Linked DNA regions of Homo sapiens: region 2 is linked to region 1. A link means that fine-mapping ties the variant in region 1 to the expression of a gene that starts in the linked region. Tissue or cell type: subcutaneous fat. Region 1 holds a variant in brackets; the other region holds the start of a gene. All regions are shown on one strand. Distances are from middle to middle.

Evidence for each region. PIP is the estimated chance that this variant, and not a neighbour inherited with it, causes the effect.
Region 2: it holds the start of ARSD, and the variant in region 1 is fine-mapped to the expression of ARSD in subcutaneous fat (FUSION, PIP 0.95).

What each region holds. Positions count from the first base shown.
Region 1 is chrX:3,373,629-3,381,734 of GRCh38, forward strand. No RefSeq gene overlaps it. Among named protein-coding and RNA genes, the nearest start is that of MXRA5, 31 kb to the left of the region's middle. The variant T/A (reference allele first, on the strand shown) is at 3,466.
Region 2 is chrX:2,926,124-2,934,211 of GRCh38, forward strand. It overlaps ARSD (arylsulfatase D), which reads right to left and starts at 3,216. Exons shown (of 10, transcript NM_001669.4): 1 at 3,109-3,216. The coding sequence starts at 3,152. RefSeq lists silencers at 2,704-2,863, 2,884-3,233.

The DNA of each region.
Region 1 (8,106 bases):
TAAGAAAGACCTGCCCCCATGATTCAATTACCTCCCACCAGGCCCCTCCCACAACACGTGGGAATTCAAGATGAGATTTGGGTGGGGACACAACCAAACCATATCAGACTTCTTCCATAAGTGGTTTTGGCTCCAGACACACAGTGAAGTCACCTGTGATGACCATTAAGCTGACTTTGGAAGTCACCTGTGAGCTTCCAAAAACACCTGCGCCTATGGTTCTAACTACATAGATTTGACTTCACTGGACCTGGATGTAGTCTGAATTCTGGGAGTGCAAATGTTCTTCTTGTGAGTCTAACAACCTCTAAATGGATATGATAATGCCTAGATCCCAAGACAGAAACAAATGTATAGTGAGCATCAAACTGGTTTGGGATGTGGGAGGCAGAGGATGCCATGGGTCAGGGAAAATGGGAGATCCTGAATTTGCCAATCTTTCTTATAAAGAAGGTTATATTTTCCTCAGAAGAGTAAATCAAACCCAATTTTAAACTTGATTTAGACAAAACATGTGTCTGCACATGGGTGTCTATCCCTTAAGGATGTAAGAGTTGTTGTACTATCCATCTATATTTATGACATATAGTTCTCTACAGGGAGAAAAATGCTGTAATTTTCTTTTATTTGAGGCCAACTCTGTTTTTTGGCCATGTGTTCAGCCATAAGTGGAACTGGCTGACTTTTAATTTTCCACGAGTATCATAAAGAATAGAAATGGAAAGTAATAAAGAGAAAGTGATTGAGTGGGCAATATTTTCCTTTTAGCTCCCAAAGAGAATGGCCAATATTTTTCAACCCTAAGGAATGCCTGTCATTTATTCTCAGAAGCAATGTAGGAATTCATGGGCTACCTCAAGAGATGCCATGAGAACAAAAGTGTAGACCCAAAACAAAGGTAGCTAGTGTCAGCACGTGATGTATGATGCAATTTGAAGACCAGGGAGAATTTGAAGGGATAAAAGGAGGGACATTGTGTCTCACAATAGAATCACGTAAGGGAAAAGATGTGCAGTGTGCCAAGTGAGTGTTTTCCAATTGGCAGTAGACAACAACTCTTCTACTGAGAAATAGTATGGGGGGAAGGAGAAAGAGAAGGCTAGAGATATGTTGCCTCTCTATTGGAACAACTCTTTGAAAAATGTGTATAGAAAACTTCTAAGTGTCCCAAGACCACAGACATATAGGATGTAGATTTGGCCATGGACCTTTGGCAATGGAACATTTGTACTCCCAGAATCCAGACTACACCCAGGACCAATGAAGTCCAATCCCTATAGGCAGAACCATTGGTGCAGGTGTTTCTGGATGCTCACAGGTGACTTCCAAAGTAAACTTAAAGGCCATCACAGGTAACTGGGGCCCAGACCACTCAAGGAAGGAGGCTCACAATGTGGTTGGGTGTCTCAGAATCAGAGAGACCCATGCAGTGTCCCCTAACTCTGATTTCCACTGGCAATAGGTGCACTTCTACTCTTTCCCTATGACAGCCTGATGGCTCTTGCTGTCCTCCTCACTGCTTAAGAAGATATTATGTCCCTGTCCAGAAGTCGACCCTCTAAACATAGACCTGGCCATGCTCATTCATTCTTTCAATAGCTATTGATGGCTCCAGGATGCCTAACCCTAACCTAACCCTACTGCTAACCCTAACCCTACCCCTACCCCTAACCCTAGACAGGGCCATGAGTGAGAACACTGACGTTTCCATTGAGTTCACATTCTAGACAAAGAGTCAGACACAGTACAATAAACACTAACCTCACATAGGAACTGTTTCCAAAAGTGAATCAGGGCAAAGAGGAAGGAGAAGGTAATTTTGGAAAGGGACAGGTGAAAAGCTATTCTGAGGAGGTGGTGTTGGAATAAATAATTCAGTTTTTGGAGAAAGAAGATTCCAAGAAGAGGGGCCAGCAGGTGCAAAAGGCCTGGGGTGCATTTGTCTTGTGGGAAATTTGAACAGCAGGATGATGAGTGTGTGAGTCTCCTGTGGTTGCTGTTACATGGGTCTGTAGGGTGATAAAATGAGAACATTTTAGTCAAATATTTCAGTGCCCAGTTTGAGGACAGTAGGTTGATAAACCAGCCAGGAATATTCCAGGCTTTCTCTCATCCATTTGCAAGACTGAAACTGGCCTTGTCTGTACCATGTTTCAATAACAGGCTGCCTTATTAACATGTACTCCTGTAGGATAGGAAAAACGCTGACTCAATAACACTGCCTGAAAAAAAATGCAACAAAATATGTTTTTCCTCTTTCTCCCTCTCTTCTTATTCCTCCTCCCTCTCCTCTAATTGTATAAAGTGATATCTTATTATCTTCATTTTTATTTCTCATTACATTTTGATTTTGGCATCTCCTCGTACTCATTGAATGAGTTTTCTAGGGATGTTGCAATGCATTCCCACAAGTTCAGTGGCTTAAAACAACACACATTGAGTATCTTCCAGTTCTGAAAGTCAGAGTCCAAAATGAGTCTCCCTGGGATAAAATTGACATATTGGCAGGACCCCGTTCCTTCTGGAGGCTCTACACAGGGAGGATCTATTTTCTTGCCATTTCTAGCTTTTAGGAGTGTCAACTAAAAATAAAATCCTAACACCCCCTCCCCACCCCTGCACCCCTGCTCCCTGGTTATCTGAACTGATCCCTCCTCTCAGCCAAGGGCACTCCAAAGTTAACCTGAAAAACTGGTTCAGGCCATGATGGGAAGTGGAAGCTGGACATGCCTCATCATGCCCTCCTCCCTTTTGGAATCACTGATAGAACAGACTCTCTAACTCTGATAAGAAACCTTTATAATCTATTCTCTCTGGAGCCTGCTACCTGGAGGCTTCATCTTCATCATAAAACCTTGGTCTCTACAACCCCTTATCATAACCCAGACATTCCTTTCTACTGATAATAACTTTTTCAACCAATTGGAAGCCCCTCTTCCTGCCACTTTGAGTTGTCCTGCTTTTCTGGACCAAACAAATATACATCCTACATGTATTGATTGATGTGTCATGTCTCCCTAAAATACATAAAACCAAGCTGTACTCCAGCCAGCTTAGGCAGATGTCATCAGGACCTCCTGAGGCTGTGTCAAGGGCACACCCTTAACCTTGGCAAAATAGACTTTCTAAACTGATTGAAATCTGTCTCAGTTACTTTTGGTTTAATGGGAGCTACCAATGTTTCTTGACTCATGGCCCCTTTCTCCATCTGCAAAGCCAGCCATAGCCACCAGGTCTAGTCTTTCTCAAGTTGCCACCTCTCTAGTTCTCCCTCCCCGCAACATTTTAAGGACCTTAGTGGTCACAAGGGACCACCTGTGTTACTCAGGATACTCCCCTTATTTTAAGATCAACTGATGAGAGAAAACTTAATTCCATATACAACCTGAATTTCCTACTGCCATGGTGCATAACACTTGTATAGGCTCTGGGAAGTAGGACATGACATCTTTGGGATGGGAGAGA[T/A]CACCCTGTCTGCTATATGCATTCAAACTATTCGAGTTTCTTCTTGTAAGAATTATCATTGCTACCCATTTTGCCTTTCCTCGTGGGTTTTATTTTCATCTTAATAGGCATACTGGCCAGGAGCAGTGCCTCATGCCTGTAATCCCAGCACTTTGGGAGGCTGAGGTAGGAGGATCGCTTGAGCCCAGGAGTTTGAGACCAGCCTGGCCAACATGGCGAAACCCCATCTCTGCTAAAAATACAAAAAATTAGCTGGGCGTGGTGGTGCACGCCTGTAATCCCAGCTACTCAGGAGGCTGAGGCACAAGAATCGCTTGAACCCAGGAGGCGGAGGTTGCAGTGGGCCGAGATAGCACCACTGAACTCCAGCCTAAGTGACAGAGTGAGGCTCTGTCTCAAAAAAAAAAAAAAGTAGAAAGATTATTTTTAAAAAATAATAATAATAGGCGTACTTTGTATAGTTTAGGTATTAGCCCCTCATCAGTTTGACACTGTGTGTGTGTATGTGCATGTGTGTATGCGCGTGTGTGTGCGTGTGTGTATGTGTGTGCACGTGTGTATGTGCATGTGTGTGTGCACGTGTGTGCATGTGTAAGTGTGTGTGCGTATGTGCATGTGTGTATGTGTGTATGTGTGCGTGTGTGTGTATGTGCATGTGTGTGTATGTGCGTGTGTATGTGTGTACTGTATGTGTGCATGTGTGCACGTGTCTGCATGTGTGTGCATGCATGCGTGTGCACATGTGTGTATGTGCATGTATGTGCATGTGTGTATGTGCACGTGTGTATGTGCATGTGTGTGTTTATGTGTGTGTATGTGTGCGTGTGTGTGTTGCGTGTGTGTGTGTGTATGTGAGTGTGTGTGAGCACTTTTCTGTGAGGTATTTCTAAAATATTTTTCTTTCTTCTCACAATTCAAATACTTAACCAGAATACCTCTAGTTGCTATTTTTCTTTCCATAACTTTCATCTGGGACTAATTAAGAACCAGATAGCCAGAAAGGTCCTATGAATTATTATTTTAAGAATAAAGACAATGTTATTTTGTAGATGTTACAAAAATACAATGAATTGATTTCCAAGAACACCGTGCACTCTTTTTTGTTTGTTTTTAGTGTCTCCAATAATTTATCTTGTAGGTAACCTATCCTCACAGAAGCACTCAGGGCAGAAGAGGAGACCGAGGTTTCTGTGCAATTATTTATTTGGAAATGGAGCCCATTCCCTTCCTGGAGCAGGAGCTCAGGAAGTGGAGGGAAGGACGTGAAACAGGAAAAGAGGAAAAGCCCATTTGAGGATTTATGACTGGATTTGCTGCCAAAGTTGCAACTACAGTTTTTTAGGATAACTGTAAGGCTGCACTGGGGAGATGAAAGAGGAAGCTATTTCTCCATCTCCTTCCGTCCTCTATGGGTGAAGGATGGCTCCTTCTCTCTTCTGATCCTGAGTGCTGGAAAGCTCAAGAAATTCTTCTGAGAATTGAGTGAGTTCAGCCAGCCTGGATTCCCTGGAATTCTGGTGAAGCCTGACTGGGGTAAGAACAAAGATTGAGAAGGTTTGACTTGGTAGACAACCAGTACCTCATGAATAGATATCCTGTAACATAAAATAGTGGTAATACTAATAATAATTATCATTATTATTAGCAATAATGCTGCAGGTTTGTCGTTACTGCCTATGTATATTTTTTCCAGGATGAAAAAACTTCCTCCACATTCTAGGAGAGAATTTCGCTTCACGAGTAGGTAGTCCACAGAATCCTAACCTCACAGGATGGTTCATTCAAAACAGATTCAATGATAAAACACACTTTAGAAAGGTTAAATATATGTTATCCTTGGTAGTGACTCATAACCCTGTTAGTTATGGCTGTGTAACAAATTAACCCCAACACTGAGCCATTTAAAGCCACACACAACACACATGTATTGTCTTGGTTTCTGTGGGCTTGGGATCTGAGGATGAGCCGGCATGGTTAGCTGGGTCTCACAGCTGAGGGTCTCTTAGGAGTTTGCAGTTGAGGTGGAGGTGGGGGCTACAGCATCTCAGGGCTTGACTGCAGAGGGATTTGCTTCCAAGCTCACTCACATTGCTGTTGGTGGGATTCAGTTCCTCACTGGCTGTTGTCCAGAAGGTTCCTTTCATTCTGAGTCACGTGGACTTCTCCATTGGGAAGCTTACGACGCACAGGCTGACTTCCCTCATAGCAAGCACCCAATCAAGCCAGTGAGGGGGATGAGGAATATGGAAGCCACAGCCTTTGTGTAACCTAATTTTGGTAATTGCATTCCATTGCAGTCAACACATTGTGTTCATTAGAAGCAAGTCGTGCATCCTGCCTACACTCAGGGAAAATGATTATACAAGGGAATGAATGCCAGGAGTGGGGGGTTCTTGAAGTTTCTCTTAGAGTGAGCTTTCCTATGTTGGCAACATATGCAGAATCTCTAGTATATCAGGTTCAATCAGGAAGAGATAACCTGCAAAATGGGACAAAATATTTGCAAACTCTGCATCCAACTAATATTCAGAATCTACAGGGAACTCAACAATAACGAAAAAAATCCGTATAACCCTATTAAAATGTGGTTAAAGAACATGAACACACAGTCTTCAAAAGAAGACATATCAATGGCCAAAAAGCATATGAAAAATTGCTCAACATGACCAATCATCAGAGAAAAGCAAATTGAAACCATAATGAGATATATTCTTATTTCAATCAGACTAGCTATTTTTTTTTGAGACAGAGTCCCACTCCGTCACCCAGGCTGTAGATAATTTGATTATTACTGCCATGCCTTGGTATTTGTGTTTCAAGAGCTGCCAGCAACTGCTATTAAAGGATGCATTTATAAACATCCCTGTGAAATTGATCACTGAGTCAGCTCCTGAAATATCTGGAAAGACTGTGTCCACTTTATGTATCTCTCCTCTATATATAGGAAGTCCCAAGAAAATGGGAGTCCAGTATCAAAAAAGGATTTGCTTCTTAAATAGCACCACACTTTCTTCTATTTAATATTGAAAACTGTCAAGGACTATGTTCTTTCTTTATTTAGACTGCCAGAAAGTACAGACACATCATCATCTGTGTTCATCCTCGTGGTTTCATTGTCAGCCCTCACTGTCATATCACCCTGGTTTTCTATCACTCATTTATAATCTGTATTCTTTATATCCTATTTTTAGTTGCATTTTGTATATCTTATATTATTCTGTTTCTTCTTTCCTGAAGCGTCCTCCTTCTTTTCAAAGGACAAGGCAAGGCCAGACATGATTGCTCATGCCTGTAGTTCTAGCATTTTGGGAGGCTGGGGTGGGGGGATCACTTGAGCCCAGGAGTTAAAGATTAGTCTGGGCAACATGGCAAGACCTTGTCTATAAAAAATAAAAAAATTAGCCCAACATGGTGGTGCACACCTGTATTCCCAGCTACCTGGGAGTGGGAGGTGGGAGAATCACTTGATCCCAGGAGGTCAAGGCGGTAGTGAGCTATGATTGCACCACTGCACTCCAGCCTGGGAGACAGAGCAAGACCCTGTCTCCAAAGAAAGAAAGAATAAAGGACAAGGCATGGCCTGTAAGTTGACAACCAACAAAAGAATCACTACAATTACAAACTGCCCTCCAATTTGGAGCAGTTCTGGTGGCTCAGACCATGTGGTTAAATACCCTGGTTTCTAATGACTTTGAGGGTGTGAGGTTTCCCATACACATACACAGCACAGCTTCTCAGAGGTCTGAAAATGGTTTCCTTTTCTGGTTTGCACTCTCCGCTCGTAGGTTTTACAACAGACATAAATGTTCATGTCCTATGTAGCATGTTCAACAATTGTGCAATGTATAATTTCACCATTTGCAAGGATACTAAGTGAGTGGAAAACTGAATTTATAACGTTGATGTACATTACACCTGTTGCCTGATGTATTAGTCAGGATAAAAGAGAACTAATAGAATGTGTTTGTGTGTGCATGTAGTTGACCCTTGAAGAACACAGCTTTCAACTTATACGTGAATTTTCTTCTACCTTTGCCATCCCTGAGACAGCAAGACCAACCCCTCCTTTTCCTCCTCCTGCTCCTCAACGTGAAGACAGTGAGAATGGAGACCTTTAGGATGATCCATTGAAAATGAAAGTTTAAAAAAAGAATATATTGGCTGGGCATGGTGGCTCACGCCTGTAATCCCAGCACTTTGGGAGGCCGAGGCAGGCGGATCACGAGGTCAGGAGATCGAGACCATCCTGGCTAACACGGTGAAACCCCGTCTCTACTAAAAATACAAAAAAATTTAGCCAGGCATGGTGATGAGCGCCTGTAGTCCCAGCTACTCAGGAGGCTGAGGCAGGAGAGTGGCGTGAACCTAGGAGGCAGAGCTTGCAGCAAGCTGAGATCATGCCACTGCACTCCAGCCTGGGTGACAGAGTAAGACTCCGTCTCAAAAAAAAAAAAAGAACATATTTGCTAACATCATAAATAAATAAATAAATAGCAAATCTATTTTTTCTTCCTTATGATTTTCTTTCATGACATTTTCTTTTCTCTAGCTTACTGTATTGTAAGAATACAGTATTGAGGCCGGGCGTGGGAGCTCATGCCTGTAATCCCAGCACTTTGGGAGGCCAAGGCAGGTGGATCA
Region 2 (8,088 bases), 450 kb before region 1:
TGCATTTATCTAAAGACATAAGTGATTAACTTCTTCTAATCTGTAATTAAGATCTGAGTCCTGAAGACCTTCCTCTGGAGCCTCGGTGAATTGACTTAATCTAGATGGGTCCAGGTGCTGGGGTGATTACCCTTATCTTGTCTCCTGCTAAATCACAGAGTTCTGGGGAGTTCCTTTAGTCCCCAACAAAGCTTGTTTGTGGAGGTCTGGGGAGTTTCTTCAGACCCACAATAAAACTTGTTTAATCCTAAATGGGTCCTGTTAAGAATTCCTTCGTTATCTTGTCATGCTTCAAAGGCCCAGGAGAGGCCTGGGCAGAACTCTTGGTGTGCTTTTGTTACATCCCAGCCTGTGCATAAAGGCGCTGGTTGTTTCAGCTTTTAGTATGTAACTTCACACTCAGTCAGTGCTGAAACAGTTGTTACGGAGGCCTGCATTAGTGAGACCTGGCCTGCCACACTAGACCATACAGGTCAGAACAAACTGGAATGGAGTCACTTGTGTTAACTGCCACATCGTCAAGCTGAACAGGGAAACAGGTCAGTTTTCCAAAAAACAGAAGATTTGAGTAAGCAAGAAGAAGATGTGTAGTTCATCTGAGCTAACAAAGTCTCCCGTGCTTTAACCCTGTAAGAAAAGTAACTTTGAAACAACCAATCTGCTTTATTATTCTTTTTTTTCTTTTTTTTGAGATGGGGTCTTGCTGTGCTGCCCAGGCTGTAGTGGCATGATGGTGGCTTACAGCAACCTCTGCCTGATTCTGAGGTGGGAGGATTGATTCAAGCAGTCCTTGAACTGCAGTGGATAGGTGGTGTCTTAGTGTTGGGGGATCGTGGCTGTGCTCTCCGGGGAGGACGCGAACGAGGGGTGTGTCTCAGGGTGTGTGAGGGGACACGGCTCTACTGGGGGGCAGGGGAGGAATAAGGCCATGGGGAGGGATCCGGTGTGGCCAGCAGGGCAATGGCCGCGGAAGGGGACAGGACGGGGCGTGTCTTGGAGGGTGGCGAGAGGCACGGCAGTGCTGCTGAGGCAGGAGAATAGGGTCTGGAGGCAGGGAACCTAAGGCTTTCCATGCCGACTTCCTAGAAGTAAATTGAAAGGAAAATCCTAACTTTCCTTTTTTTTTTAATTTTAATTTTTATTATTATTTTTTGAGATGGAGTTTCACTCTTGTCGCCCAGGCTGCAGTTCAATGGCATGATCCGGGCTCACTGCAACCTCCACCTCCAGGGTTCAAGCGATTCTCCTGTCTCAGCCTCCTGAGTAGCTGGGATCACAGGTGCCTGCCACCACGCCCGGCTAATTTTTTTGTAATTTTAGTAGAGGCCCGGCCTAATTTTTGTATTTTTAGTAGAGACGGGATTTCACCATATTGGCCATGCTGGTCTCAAACTCCTGACCTCAGGTGATCCACCCGTCTCGGCCTCCCAAAGTGCTGGGATTACAGGCATGAGCCACCTCGCCTGGCGGGAAAATCCTAACTTTCCATGCCTAAGTAACAAAAGGACCGAAGGCTTCCCTTTGACCTTTTCTATTGGGTAGATAGTAGACTGGCTGTCTGCAACCAATCGGACTGATTTCGGGTCTAGTCTTCGTGTGCAACTTTGTGACTTCACCCTAGTCTCTGATTAGTTGGGTTTTGCAACCAATCAGATGTTTGCACAGGAGTGTGACCTTTGTAACTTCACCCTTTGGTTGGCTGCTGCCTGCAACCAATCAGACTGATCGCGGGCCACCACTTCAGTTACATGAGGTGAGCATGAAGTGGCCAATGGGAAACTTCTAGGGGGTATTTGGACCCAAGAAGATTATGTACCCGGGCCCTTGAGCCGCTGCTTGGTCGGCTCCCACACTGTGACGTGTCCTTTTGTTTTCAATAAATCCCTGCTTTCCTTCTTTTGTTGCTTCATTCTTTCTTTGCTGGGCGTTTTGTCCAATTCTTTGTTCAAAACGCCAAGAACCTGGACAACTTGCAGTCACGACCCTCTACCGGTGGCACTGGGGCGCAAATGAAGCTGGGAATGCAGGACCCGGCGCATCTGAGGAAGTGCAGCGGGGCATGGCGGTGCTAGAGGGTGGGGACATGGAGGCGGCACAAGGCCAAGGCGCCGGGGGATGGCCAGAGGGAAGTAACGGCCGCGCTTGTGGTGGAGATGGGGACGGGACAGAGAAGTCTTGGGGGGTGACCGGGGTAGGCACGGCGGTGCTGGGGGGAGGGCGCCCAATGAAGCCCACGGGGGGGAAAGGGGCGTGTCTTACCGAGCGTGTTGGGGGAGTCACAGCCGTGCTTGGGAGGATGGGGTCTGGGGGAAGGACGGGGCGCGTCTTAGTGGGATGAGGGGGAGGGCACAGCCGTGCTGGGAAGGCAAAGGGCCGGGGGGCGGGATGGAGCATGTCATGGTGGGGCCGAAGAGGCGGGGGGCGGGAAGGGGCCTTCTTAGAAATCGGGAGGGCGTCACAGCTGTGCTCGGGAGGACGGGGCGTTGGGGAGGGACAGGGAGCGTCTTAGTGGACCCGGGGAACACGGCCGTGCTGGAAGGCATCGAGCTGGGGGGTTGGGGGCGGGACGGGGTGCCTCTTAGGAAGTGGGGCGGGCAAGGCTACGCTTCGGGGGATGGAGCCTTGGGGCGGGACGGGGCGCGTCTTAGTGGGGCAGAGCGGGGGGCGCGGTTCGGGGCGGGTCTTAGGGAGCCTTTGAAGGCCGAATCCGGGCAGCGGTGTAGCTGGGCGTGGAAGGCGGAGGACCCAGCAGGGCGTGACCGGCCCAGTTTCCGCTCCCTCCGGGTCCCGGCCAGCCTTCCTCCGCCCTCCCTTCCCTTCCTCCTTTGTTCTCTTTCCCTGCCCTTCCGCCTTCCCTTCAGTTCGGTCTCCTCCACCCGCCCTTCGTCCCCTCAGTCGCCCCCCATCCCTGGGCTCTGCTGTCTGGCGTCTTTCCCGGGCACAGAACGCGCCTCCAGCTACATTTTGGAGACTACAAGGCGCCGGACACAACCACGCCCTTTACAGGGGCCCAGGCTCGCCCGGGGCGCCCCTCGCCGTGCTCGCGACCCCCTCCCCAGGCCCCCACCCTAGGCCTTAGTATGGGCCGCGTCCCGGGGTCCCAGGCACCTGGCGGCGGGCGCGGCGCGTCCCCTCCGCGCGGCGGATCGCATGGCCGAGCGCTGGCCCAGAGCGCAGGACCTTGCCCTGCGCACTCCGCGCCCGGGCGCCGCTAGTGCCAAGGCTTCCGCCCTCTCAGCTGCGGGATCTGGGCCGGGCGCCCGCCCCTCCTTCATCCGCGTCATCTCCTGGCTCTCGGGACCTCCGGGACCTGCGCGTGGAAACAGGTTTTCCCAGGTCGTCACACGGGAAGGCCTGGGCTAAGGAGCTGATTAAACCCAGTTACGATTGACCGGGCGCGGTGGCTCCCGCCTGGAATCCCAGCAGTTTGGGAGGCCAAGACGAGTGGGTCACCTGAGGTCAGGAGTTCGAGACCAGCCTGGCCAACCTGGTGAAACCCCGTCTCTACTAAAAATACAAAAATTAGCTGGGTGTGGTAGTTCACGTCTGTAGTCCCAGCTATTCGGGAGGCTGAAGCAGGAGAGTTGCTTGAACCCGGGAGGTGGAGGTTGCAGTGAGCTGAGATCGCGCCACTGCAACTCCAGCCTGGGCGACAGAGTGACACTCCGTCTCAAAAAATAAATAAATAAAAATAAAAAATAAACCCAGTTAGGCTTGAGCACAGGGAGCCCCTTTTCTTTTTGTCAGGAAGGGTCTTAGGACCTACCCAGAGCAATCAAGTTGCGATTTCAGTTTCTCAAAGCTTGGTGTTTGAAATGTCTGTTCCGGATGCTGGACTTGTACTCTAAGTCTGGGACGGGGAATGCTAGATGGGCCCTTTTTTTTTGCTTTTATTACTATTATTATTATTATTTTGAGATAGGGACTCACTCTGTCGCCCAGGCTGGAGTGCAGTGGTGCGATCTCGGCTCAGTGCAACCTCCGTCTCCTGGGTTCAAGCGATTCTCCTGCCTCAGCCTCCCGAGTAGCTGGGACTACAGGCGCGTGCCACCACGCCCGGCTAATTCCAATTGCTATTTTTATCTTTGTTTCTTTCATCAGACTGCTGTTGAAATTACTCCTTTTGATTAATCACTGTGCCCTGGACCCCTCCCCATCTTTTCTGTGACTCATCCTTTTGTTTTTGAATGATGCTATTTTGCTCATTACCCTCTCACGTAATGCTTTTTTTGTATCTTTGGCTCTCCCTTTGTTGTTTGTTTGTTTTGTTTTTAACTCTTTTGACCTCTAGAAAGATCAAGGCTGAGAGTTGAGGCTGCAGTGAGCCTTTGTTTTTGTCTAACTCTCTTGACCTCCAGTCGCTGATTCTCTCAAGCCCCTTCATGTCTTACCTCATCCCCTCACATCCCCTCACAATGCAAGATCTGGTCAAAGTATAAATTCATATTTTGTAGGAAATGCTAGCTTACAAAACAATATCACATCCCTACCTCCAGCCCAGGTGACCCACTTTCCCTCAAAGGGGGTTGCTTAGGTCCTCTTCCACTGGTCAGGGACAAAATGATTCCATAGTCTTCAAGATTAACAGTACTTTCTTTTTCCAAGGCTGAGGCTGTCAAGGGTGAGGCTGTCACCGCCTCCCAAGGAAGTGGAACTACCGGTGTGCACCACCACCCCTGACACATTTTTGTTAATTTATTTTTTTGCTAGAGACTAGGTCCCACTATGTTGCCTAAGCTGGTCTCAAACTCTTGCCTCAAGCAGTCCTCCTGCTTTGGCCTCCCAAAGTACTGGGATTACAGGTGAGCCACTGTGCCTGACCAGCCACAAGACTCTATGTTGGGTGTGTAGGTGGGAAGCATATCCAGGTCCTCCTCACCATTATTCTGCCTCCAACATTTATGCCATTTTTTTTTCCTTTGCAACTCAGTTCTCTATGCTTACCAAATGGAATCAGTAAGGTAGGGGAGGCGGGGTGGAAGTTTGTGTTGAAAACATAGATTCAGAAGCCCCTCCTTAAATTCACTGAGTTAGGATTTTCATAAATGAGGGAGCTGCCCCACACTCCCCTGGGATGAGATGATGGGGGTGCTTGTTCAAGACAATACAGTCAGGAGCCCTACTCCCTAAATTTATTCAATTGGAATCTCCCAAAATGGTGCTGGGAATTCTATTTAGAAAAAAGACCATTCACTTTTAATTGGCAAATTTAGTTCATTTACATTTATTACGCTGGCCATCTGTCTGGAGCTAGCTCTTGAGCACTGTTTATTGCTTCTCTCTTTGCCCTGTTACTCTGAAATAGCTTTTATCAGACAGGCTTGGTGGCTCACACCTGTAATCCCAGCACTTTGGGAGACTGAGGGGGAAGGATTGCTTGAAACCAGGAGTTTGAGAACAGCCTGCGAAACACAGAGAGACCCTGTCTCTACAAAAAAATTTTTTTAAGTTAGCCGGGCATGGTGGTGTGCCTGTAGTCCCAGCTATTTGGGAGGCTGAGGTGGGAGAGTCATCTGAGTGCAGGAATTTGAGGTTGCAGTGAGCTGATTGCACCGTTGCACTCCAGACTGGGTGACAGAGCAAGACCCTGTCTCTAAAAAAATTTAAAAAAGAACTTTTTTATCTTTGAGGGCTTCCCAACTGGGATTCCTTGCTGAGCCTCTGTCATGCAGATGGAGAAGGCCAGGCCGAGGCCTGGAAGGAGGGGGGCAGGAGACAGCCCAGAAGCAGTTCTGCAAGGAGGTTTAGCAGGGGTGGCGCGGAGATTTGATCCTTGGAAGAAATCCTATGCTGCTGGGAGTTGAGATTCCTGAGAACTAGAGAGAAAAGAACTTTGGGTGCCCTTAGGTAAATTATGTAAACACACTGAGCTGTCTTGGGTGCCCAGGATTTGGAAATGGGGCCTGGGGGCAGTAGGAGCTGGTGCTCCAGAAGTCATATTTGCGGGAGGTTGTGGGGATGGAAAGGGTGGGTAAGCCCTGACCCTGAGGGTCTCACATGACTTTCAGCACATGGAGCCTCCATGGGGACTTTGGCTTCAAAGCCATCAAGCTCAAGAGTGTGGGCAAGTGTGGAGACAGAGGTGACTCTCCCCAGTGGATGCTGAAGAACTTAAAGGTGACTCTGTGGGCCGGGAACATCGGGCACAGCTGACCCAAAGTGCTGGTCTTGTTCCATAAGCCATGGCTATGGGGAAAGCCATAGGGGTTAACTGGTTCTTCCTGCCATCCCTCCCTCCCTTTCTTCCTTTTTCTTTTTGCTTCTTTGCTTTCCTTCCTTCCTGCCATTTTTTCCTTCCTTTCTTTTTAGAGATGAGGTCTCGCCCTGTCGCCCAGTGGCACGATCACAGCTCAGTGTAGCCTTGGACACTTTGGGAGGCCAAAGGCTCAAGTGATCCTCCCGCCTCAGCCTCCCAAGTAGGTGGGACTATAGGCACGTGTCACCACACCTAATTATTTAAATGTTATGCGGAGGCAGGGTCTCGCTATGTCACCCCAGCTGGTCTGAAACTCCTGGCCTCAAGCCATCTTAGTGCCCTAAAGTGCTGGGACTACAGATGTGAGTCACCGCACCTGGCCTACTATTTCTTTCTTGACCCAAGAGAATTGGCTGGAGATGGATTTGACTTTTTGGTCTGTATGCACAGCCTGAATTCTTGGAGGCTGATGTGGATTGGATAATTTGAGGACATGTTCTTGAGGCGGTGACAAGGTGGGGCATTGCTCGTCACATACCTAGGCTTGGAAGAGTGGGAGGAGGGACCTGTTGCTTGAATCTGGAGACAGAAAGAGCTATTGGAAAGACCTCCTTACTCCCAGGGGAGAATGTGCTGGGGACTGAATTGTGTTGCCTTCAAACTCACAGGAATAAGGTTTTTATTCATCCTTTAAAATGAGGTCACAAGAGTGGGCCCTATTCCAATAGGAGTGGGGTCCTTATAAGAAGAGGAGATTAGGGCCGGGTGCAGTGACTCACGCCTGTAATCTCAGCACTTTGGGAGGCCAAGGTGGGCGGATCACTTGAGGTCGGGAGTTCTAGACCAGCCTGGGCAACATGGTGAAAACCCACCTCTACTAAATAATACAAAAATTAGCCGGGCATGGTGGTGCACGCCTGTAGTCCCACCTACTCGGGAGGCTGAGACAGGGGAATCACTTGAACCTGTGGCAGAGGTTGCAGTGAGCTGAGATCACGCCATTGCACTCCAGCCTGGGCAACAGAGCAAGACCCCATCTCAAAAAAAAACAAAAAACAAAAAACAAGAATCAGAGATAGGACACAGACAGGCACAGAGGGATGACCGTGTGAAGACATGGGAAGAAGGCAGCAGCTGTGAACCGAGAAACAGGTTCTCCCCAGACACAGCTTCCGTCACGCCGTGGTCTTGGACATCCAGCCTCTAGAACTGCAAGAAAGAAATATTCTTGATGATACCCAGTTTATGGTATTTTCATTCTAGCAGCCCAGACAATTAAGGCGCAGCCTGATTATGCAATGACCTTGCAGCTCAGAGCTGGGGCGAACACTTCCTGCACAGCGCGGCTTCCACAGCCAGAGTTTGCCCAAATCACCTGGGGCATTGGAGACAAAGGAAAACCACTTGAAAACAGTTCCAACGGGAAGCACGGCTCATCCTTGTGGCCGTAAACGATAAACAAACACTATAAATGGGCACCACAGACAAAGCCACATCAGTGCCAGTTTTTATCTTTGGGGCCTATCTCCTGTTCATGTGCAAACCTGTAGGTCACAGAGACACCTTTGCTGGGACTTGTGCTGTTTTGGGCTACAGGGCAGCCTCTTCCAGACTGAGCTGGGGTCCATTGACAGACTCCTCCCCGACTGCAGGAGATACTTTGCCTCTCCAGTTTGGTGTCTGAGTGATCATTCAACGGTGCATTATTAATGTTTGTTTGTTTATTTATTTATTTTTGATGAGACAGTCTTGCTCTGTCACCCAGGCTGGGGTGCAGTGGTACGACCTCAGCTCACTGCAACCTCTGCCTCCCGGCTTCAAGCAATTCTTCTGCCTCAGCCTCCTGAGTAGCTGGCATTATAGGCGTGTGCCACCACACCTGGCTGCTGCTG